Homo sapiens: one gene and its partner. The protein of the gene in region 2 purifies or fractionates together with the protein of the main gene of each other region. This does not show direct contact. Each region holds a gene or a part of one and is shown on either strand. Other genes may lie near its edges.

The links.
Region 1: the proteins of CFAP161 (region 2) and EML5 purify together in Homo sapiens (affinity purification with mass spectrometry, with the first as the bait; one large-scale study listed by BioGRID). This does not show direct contact.

The regions. Positions count from the first base shown.
Region 1 is NC_000014.9:88,790,154-88,794,422, reverse strand, and holds the start of EML5 (echinoderm microtubule-associated protein-like 5), read left to right. Parts: upstream 1-1,469; 5' UTR 1,470-1,919; coding exon 1,920-2,116; intron 2,117-2,145; exon of another isoform or gene 2,146-2,687; coding exon of another isoform or gene 2,688-2,713; intron 2,714-4,269. UniProt on the Homo sapiens protein: May modify the assembly dynamics of microtubules, such that microtubules are slightly longer, but more dynamic.
Region 2 is NC_000015.10:81,132,973-81,137,069, forward strand, and holds the start of CFAP161 (cilia- and flagella-associated protein 161), read left to right. Parts: upstream 1-1,297; 5' UTR 1,298-1,357; coding exon 1,358-1,426; intron 1,427-2,297; coding exon 2,298-2,387; intron 2,388-3,543; coding exon 3,544-3,776; intron 3,777-4,097. UniProt on the Homo sapiens protein: Microtubule inner protein (MIP) part of the dynein-decorated doublet microtubules (DMTs) in cilia axoneme, which is required for motile cilia beating.

The DNA of each region.
Region 1 (4,269 bases), on a different chromosome or scaffold from region 2:
TCAGATTCTGCCCAGAATGGAAACTCTTTCAGAGTTTACTTTTCATGACATCTATGTAAATTCCTTTCAGATGGCCTTTATTTCCTGCATGTAAACTGCTTGCAGATTAGAAGTCATAATCAAAGACGAAACGGTAATCCTGTCTCAAGTTAGTAACTGGCATCTTTGAGGAAGTAGACATTGGATAACATCTATTCCAATATATCTGTACCACACAGGAGTCAACCCCTTTTGGAGTCATATTTCTTGAAACGATGGTAGTTTATTTTAGCTTTTGTCAGATTTCTGTCTTGGTATTTCCTATGGAAATCAAACAGTAATTTTTAGACAATAAGGGTTCATATTGGTATATCCTGAATTAGTATTTTTTTGTTGTAAATCTTGTGGCCATCCTGAACTTAACACTTTTTAAATTGTGGATTTCCAATTATTTTTAGAGGTATTGATAAATCTTGTTCATATTCCTGTGAGAAGAGGACACAACTGAGTAGGAGGGGAAATGACATAGTCAGGAATTGATTGTTCCCAATACTTTTATTACAGGAGTTTTCTACAGGATCACAATTGAATTTATTTAATTAAGAGTAACTGTTGGTGATGTCCCAGTCATTTTTAAAAAAATCGAAGTACAATTTTTTTTTTTTTTGCTATTCGGAAATCAGATCTCACATGTCAGTTTACCATCTAAAGTCTACCTTCAGCTTTGCGGTCACTTAAGAAAACATACACTTAGGACCAGGAGCAGTGGATTGGGCCTGTAATCCCAGCGCTTTGGGAGGCCTGAGGCAGAAGAACTGCTGAAGGTCAGGAGGTGGAGACCAGCCTGGGCAACACAGCAAGACCCCCGCCTCTACAAAATAAACTTAAAAACAAAGCAAAACATTTGCCGGGCATAGTGGTACGCAACTGTACTCCTTACTACTCCGGAGACTGAGGCGGGAGGATCGCTGGAGCCCAGGAGTTGGAGGCTACAGTGAGCTGAGACTGCGCCACTCCACTCCAGCCTGGGCGACAGAGCGAGGCTCTGTTTCTAAAAATAATAATTTAAAAGCACATTTAGGAAGCTCGGCATCATTCCAATGTCTGGGTCCGAAAGCACTATAAGGCAGCAAGACACACAAGGTATCAAGCGTAAAAAAGAGAATTTAGCATCCCGGTGTGGATTTTCCCAGGCAAAAACGTGGCCTACGCTGGGTGCAGGGACCGTGCGGAACCGGCAGGTGCTTCCCGGTTGAGGACGCAAAGCAGCGGGAGCCCGGGGTCGCCGAGGGTCCGCCTGGGCTTAAGCAGCTCAACGAGGGAGGGCTCACCGGCCCGCGCACTTGCAGAGACGCGGTCCCAGCGACTCCGCAACTAGACCGTGGCCCCGCGAACTCCAGCCTCTTCTCGGCTCCGGGAGGGGCGGAGTGAGCGCGGGAGGGGGCGGGGCCACGCAAGGCCGCGCGCCCGCCGCTCGGCTCGGCTCGGCTCGGCTCGCTCGGTTTCGGGGTGCGCGGCGCGGGTCCGCCAGGCTGTGGCTACAAAGCCGCGGCGGGGCGCGAGCGCCGCAGGTGACCGGGGCTGGGAGCTGCGTGCGCGGGCGGCGGCTGAGGAGCTGGAGGCGGGCCCTCGCTCTCGGCCCAGGCGCTACGGGCTGAGGAGACTAGGCGAGCCGAGGCGGGCGAAGGGCTCTGGGCATCCACTTGACAGCCGGCGGCGCTCGCGGCCCTCAGCATGTTCCGCGAGGCGAGGGTTTTCCTCCCGCCTGTGGGCTGAGGCGGCGGCGGCCCCCGAAACGAGATGCACCTGACGGGCGCGGCTTAGAGGACGCGGCTGGCGGGAAGTCCCGGCAGCCAGCGGGAGGGCTTTCGTTGCCGGGCCGCCGCCGCCTCCCGTCGCCGCCGCGGGCCCGAGCGGGAGCGGCGGGTGGGCGCCCCGACATGGCGGCCCGGAGCGCCCCGAGCTGCCACCTGCGGCTCGAGTGGGTGTACGGCTACCGGGGCCACCAGTGCCGCAACAACCTCTACTACACTGCGGCCAAGGAGATCGTATACTTCGTGGCGGGGGTCGGCGTGGTGTACAGCCCGCGGGAGCACAGGCAGAAGTTCTACCGGGGCCACAGCGACGACATCATCAGGTACCGGGGAGCGGGGGCCGCCGCCGTCACCCTGCAAGCCGCTCCCGGAGTTTGCACCCGCGGGTTCCTCTGGACGCCGTGACCGCTCCTGCACGGAGCATCACCCCGAGGGGAATCCGCAGCTGTCTCTCTGGTCCCGAGTCCACCAGTTAACACCCTACAAATGCCTTTCCCCTCTTCCTCGTCTAGGGACTCTCTCTCGGGTCCGTGCAGGAAGATCAGGTCCGCGGATCCACCGGGCACCCGGTTTGACGGCTTTGTCCCCTTTCCCACTCCATCACAATTACGAAAACTGCGAAAAGGTTATTTTGGTGGCACTTTATTCCGTTAGATCCTGTGAGAAATTTCTTATTAAACGCATTCTTAAAGCACCCGGGGTGGGGGGAAACCCTTTACCTAATAAAGGACTGATGGAAGCACAGCAAGCGGTGGGCTGCTCCCGGGGAGCGCGCCCAGGGTGGCGTCCTGAAGGGCTCTCACCTCCTGGCCGTAATTATTAGTTCAGGTTTCACCGCCTGCTATAATCAGCAGAAACCCCAGGCAACCTCCAGGCAATTCACTGGATGTTAAAATGTGCACACCTGAAGGCAATTTAAGGTAGGTCTTATCTGAAGAGGCTGCTGAAAACTTCACTGATTTCCAGTTCTCTTCATCTTCATTAAAATACTCCTAAATAAGCTACTTTTGTATTTTCTTAAAATTAAATCGCTATTGGGGGGCTATTTTTAGTCTTCCTTGGACAATAACTCAAAGTTGGTCCCAGAGCTTGTTGACATTTCTTTAGTGAGCGGTATATTTGAAATGTAATTTTCAATCAGTGTCTTAGTACAACTTTTATGGTAAAGTCAAGAGCTTCAGAAATCATTCTAGGCCACTGATTATTGCCTCAAGCACAGCATTTTTTGTCCTTTACAGAGGAAAATATATTAAAAGCAATTGAGAATGTGTTTGTGTGGTGCTCTTGGGGTTTTATCAAAGATTCTACGATTTGGGTTTGGTTACAAAATGTTATTCCCTCATGTATGTTGCACAGGATTTAAATTGGGCATTTCAAATACGGTACCTTGGTTTGAAGTCTTGTAGGCAAGAAGCCCTGGTATGTAAATTCCACAAATAAAGTTGTTCTTCTGTTTTGCGTCTCTGTACATCTATAATATGTAAGAGGGAAAGGATGCCTAGGACAAACAGAGGTAGGGCAAGATGGAGTAAAGATAAGAAAAGACAAAATTGAGATTGCAGAGTAAGGAATGAGGTGGTGCTCTGTATTCAGTTGGTTTTTTTTGTTTGTTTTTGTTTTTTGGACACCAGAGTGCTTTTTCAGATTGTATTTAATGTATTACTTTGAAAAGGTAACTGATAAGTCATTTCATTTTTCTCAAGCTGGGACTCTGTATCGTGGTGATTAGGGTTACAGACCTATTATAATAGCCCAAATTGCTGATGGAAAAACAAAACTAAAGTAAACCCGTAGTAATTATTTATCTTCTTAGTTATCCCAAGAGTAGAGTTTACCCCAGTGTCTTGTCTTTTTCCCTAATCCTTTCAAGTCTCCCTTCTTTTCCATATGCTAGGTCTCCCAAAGTACCAGGCATAGTAGCTTTACCTAGCTGGAGCAGCCTTAACTGAAGCCCTGCTCCAGATAATTTAGTCTGTTAGGTTGAATTCAGCTGGTGGAGTAAATGTGAAGGATTTTGAGGTCTTCTCGTGGTACACTTGTATTGTTTTTACTCCTTGGGGGTTATGAGAGCAGTATAGCACTAAGGTCTTCTGAAACTAGATATGATTTATTTGGTGAGGTAAATTACATCTTGTTCTTCTAGCAGTAATTAGAAGCTGTGTTATATGTCACACCGCTTAAATTTCATAATTGTGTTTCAGTAAACTGTAAGGAAGGTAATGCTTTGACTTTCTTTTGGTATAGTTGCACAACTTATACAAAACAACAAACATACTCGAATTTCTCATCGTTGAATATACATGCTTATGATTTTATCCAAATGACACATCTTTAATGTATAACAATGAAAATAAGTTTCCTGAAAAGTTTCAATGAGGGAGTAAAATCTGAATCATACAGCATCTTGAAATTGGTGGCACAAATTTAATATGATACTGAGAATATAATTTAGGAATCAGTGAAAGGGCTCTGGACA
Region 2 (4,097 bases):
TGGTGATATATTGACAGAGCTGGTGGATTCATCAGAATGTGGGAATGTTCCTATTTTTATTCTACACTTCAGCCTGCCAGTTCAAATCCTTCCCAGTTCAGCTCCAAAGCAGCCCCTCTCCCATCACTCAAAGGCCATCCAATTCCCATTCTCACAGTTCCTCAAGACAGAAAGGATCCTTCAACTCCATGGCCCTTCATCAGCATATATATATATATATATATATATATATATATATATATATATATATATGTATTTTTTTTTAAATTGGAGATGGGGTCTCACTATGTTGCCCAGGCTGGTCTAGAACTCCTGGGCTCAAGTGATCCTCCTGCCTCGGCTTCCCAAAGTGCTGGATTATAGGCTTGAGCCACCACGCCAGCCCATCAGCACATCTTTAATTGCATTTTTCCACAGTCTTCCTTAAGTAATTCGTTTTCATGAACTATCTTTTCTTTTAGACTGGGTTTGCTGAAGGGAGCGGAGGCTCCTGTCTTCCATTTCAGTCATGTCTTACTAGACACTAAATAGAGGTAAATTACTGAATGCATTCAATCTGCATCAAGCCTCCGGTAGTCCTACAGTAACTGGTATCCCTCCCCTCCCCAGAAAATAATATTTTGTTTTATTAATGCTGGCTACAGCAGAGTCTGGTTTTCTTAAGAGTTCCTGCAAATCACAGGTTCGTCCTTTAACTTTGAGACCCAGGGAAGGAGGGAGCAAGGGAGGGAGGGAGGGAGGATGCTGTCAAGTCCGCAAAAATATGGACAACCTCAGAAACCTATAAACAGAAATATACTAACATGGTATATTTCTTACTTTTAAGGCCCTGAAATTATTAATTTTCCTTTCTTCTTTCTATGCGATTTTGGTTTCCAAATGTGTACATTGAGCAGGTATTGTTTTATGATTAGGGCGAAATTGCTGCTGCTGCTGCTGCTGCTGCTGCTGCTGATTACAAAAAATAGGCTGCAAGCAAGCCGTGCTTCCATTTAAAAGCTCCTCTTTGTTGCCTCGACAAGCAAGGGGTACTCGATAGCACTTTTCGGTTAGATTCTAATAGAAAGAAAGCTTTAAATTTCTCTCTCGGAAGCACTTTGTCAGCCAGGGTTTTCCCTCTCGCCCACCCTGCAGTTAAGGAAATCTAAGAGGTGGAAGTGGGGCGGGCTGGAGGGCCACAGACAGCCGCTGACCCAGACGCCCCATCTCCCGCCCCAGGGCGAGGGTGCGCGCTGTCGCTTATTGGCCAGCAGGGTCCCAGACCTTGACCAATCGCCTGGGGCCGGGTCGTCATGGCGACGCGCCACGCTAACGCATGGTGTCGGAGGGAGGCCCACTTGCTGAACAGCAGGGAGCGATGGCGCAGAACGTGTATGGTCCGGGAGTCCGGATAGGCAACTGGAATGAGGATGTCTACCTGGAGGAGGTACGCAGGGTGTGGCCAGGCGCAGACCCGCAGCTCAGGAACTCCCAGACCCTGCTCTAAGTTCAGTCTCCTACTTTGAGCGCCTCAAGCCTCCTCTCTCTCCCAGCATACAGCGAATACCTCTAAAATCCCCCACTTCTCTAAACTCCCAAGGAATCTCACCTGCCGAACTGCAAACCCAGGTCTCACTGACCTCTACTCCGAGCACCCTGACTTTTCTTTCTCTGGGTCCCTTGGCCTCCCAAAGTCAGATGCCTTGACTCTCAAGCCCCTGGCCTGTGTCTCCCGCTTAGTCTAGAGCCCCACTAAGTCCCCCGTATTCCTTAGAGTCTTACAGTCTCAGGCTGCGGGCCAGGTGAGGACACAGGTTCTAGGTAGAAATAATATCCCTCCCCACTCCAACCCTGCCACGCTTGCCCTCTTAAATGACCCTGAGTATTCCTTTTATTGACGTTGTACTCACTCACTGCCTCGTATTCTCCCAAGGGTGGTCTTAACAAGGCTTTGAGCCATTCGTATACGGGTCAGATTGGGGAGGGGTGAACTTTCTAGTGTCAGTCATCATACGGTCAAGGGAAACCCCAGCAGGGGAGACATGGCCTCCAAATGTCATTTAGGATGGTATCTGGCTGGAGTAATTACTGGTGATGTTTCTTTTTCTTTGTTTTGCCTTTCTCATTTTTCTAAACATTCTATAATGTAGTAAAAATATTAAAGTAGTGCTAAAAACGTTCCATCATTCCAATTATGCTCACATCTCTTTTTTTGTACTCAAATTTTGCTTTTTCAACTTGGAAGAGCTTCTGACCTAAAAGTTATTAATACTAACATCTATATTATTCAGGGCTACTTTTGTTGATTTTCTGTTTAGGAGCTCATGAAAGACTTCTTAGAGAAGAGAGACAAGGGGAAACTTCTCATACAGAGAAGTAGAAGACTAAAACAGAATCTCTTGAGACCGGTAACTTTTTTTTTTTTTATTACACTTTAAGTTTTAGGGTACATGTGCACAACGTGCAGGTTTGTTACATATGTATACATATGCTATGTTGGTGTGCTGCACCCATTAACTCGTCATTTAACATTAGGTATATCTCCTAATGCTATCCCTCTCCCCTCCCCCCACCCCACAACAGGCCCCAGTGTGCGATGTTCCCCTTCCTGTGTCCATGTGTTCTCCATTGTTCAATTCCCACCTATGAGTGAGAATATGCGGTGTTTGGTTTTCTGTCCCTGCGATAGTTTGCTCAGAATGATGGTTTCCAGCTTCATCCATGTCCCTACAAAGGACATGAACTCATCATTTTTTATGGCTGCATAGTATTCCATGGTGTATATGTGCCACATTTTCTTAATCCAGTCTATCGTTGTTGGACATTTAGGTTGGTTCCAAGTCTTTGCTATTGTGAATAGTGCCGCAGTTGGTGGGACTGTAAACTAGTTCAACCATTGTGGAAGTCAGTGTGGCAATTCCTCAGGGATCTAGAACTAGAAATACCATTTGACCCAGACATCCCATTACTGGGTATATACCCAAAGGATTATAAAACATGCTGCTATAAAGACACATGCACACGTATGTTTATTGAGACCGGTAACTTTAAATTCAGACATTGTTTTCAAAATTCTGTTGAACTTGGTGTGAGTATATGTTAAGCAAGAAAAAAATTTCATAACTGAGTTACCATTTGGAAAATAACAGTTTTTAAAAACAATTTGCAATGTTTTAAATTCTTCTAAGATTTTAGAAACATAAACAGTCTGCCCTAAATCATGTTTACCTGCATTTTACAAATAAAGAAATAAATGAGTTAATATGTAAATAAGTAAAATGCCCCTTAGTTGGTAATCGACAAATTTTTCAATGAATGTTGAATTTCTAGGATAATGAGTAAATCCATGTGATTTTAACCAGCTTTATTCGACTTCATTTGGAATTATTGGGAGCTTTGCCTTGGCAAAGGGGAAGGGAAAGGAAGAAGGAACTAAGGGTTCGAGGGAATCCAAGTGAAATCCTGAATGAAATGGGTACTAGTCCGAGAAGGAAGAAAATTGCCTTGGCAGTAACTGTTGAGGAATTGCATGGTTTATGTAATAAACTACTATCAAAATTGTAGATGCAACTTTCCGTAACTGAAGATGGCTATATTCATTACGGTGACAAAGTGATGCTTGTGAATCCTGATGATCCTGACACAGAAGCTGATGTGTTTCTGCGTGGGGACCTGAGCCTGTGTATGACTCCAGATGAAATTCAGTCCCATCTGAAAGACGAATTAGAGGTACCCTGTGGCCTGAGCGCAGTTCAAGCCAAGACCCCAATTGGCAGAAACACTTTTATCATTTTGAGGTAAAGAGACTTTAATTTTCAGTTCATTTTCATCATAAATATGTTTCACTTGTAGCTTAAAGATTCCTGGGTATTGGAGCCACTGAGTGGAGGGAAAGGTTTTGTGAACATTTTTCGTGATTTTCATCTTGCTTTGCTTACCTTGAGAATTATTGTCAAAGGAACTTTACAATCCCTTTTTACCTTAGACAGCAGGATAATTGTGTTCAATTCAAAATGCTTAAATCATGAGTATAGGATCCAGGGAATTAAATCCATATTCTGCCTGGAAGCAAAGTAGGTTTTCCCTATAACATTTTGGAACTTTTTGAGCTCATTTGA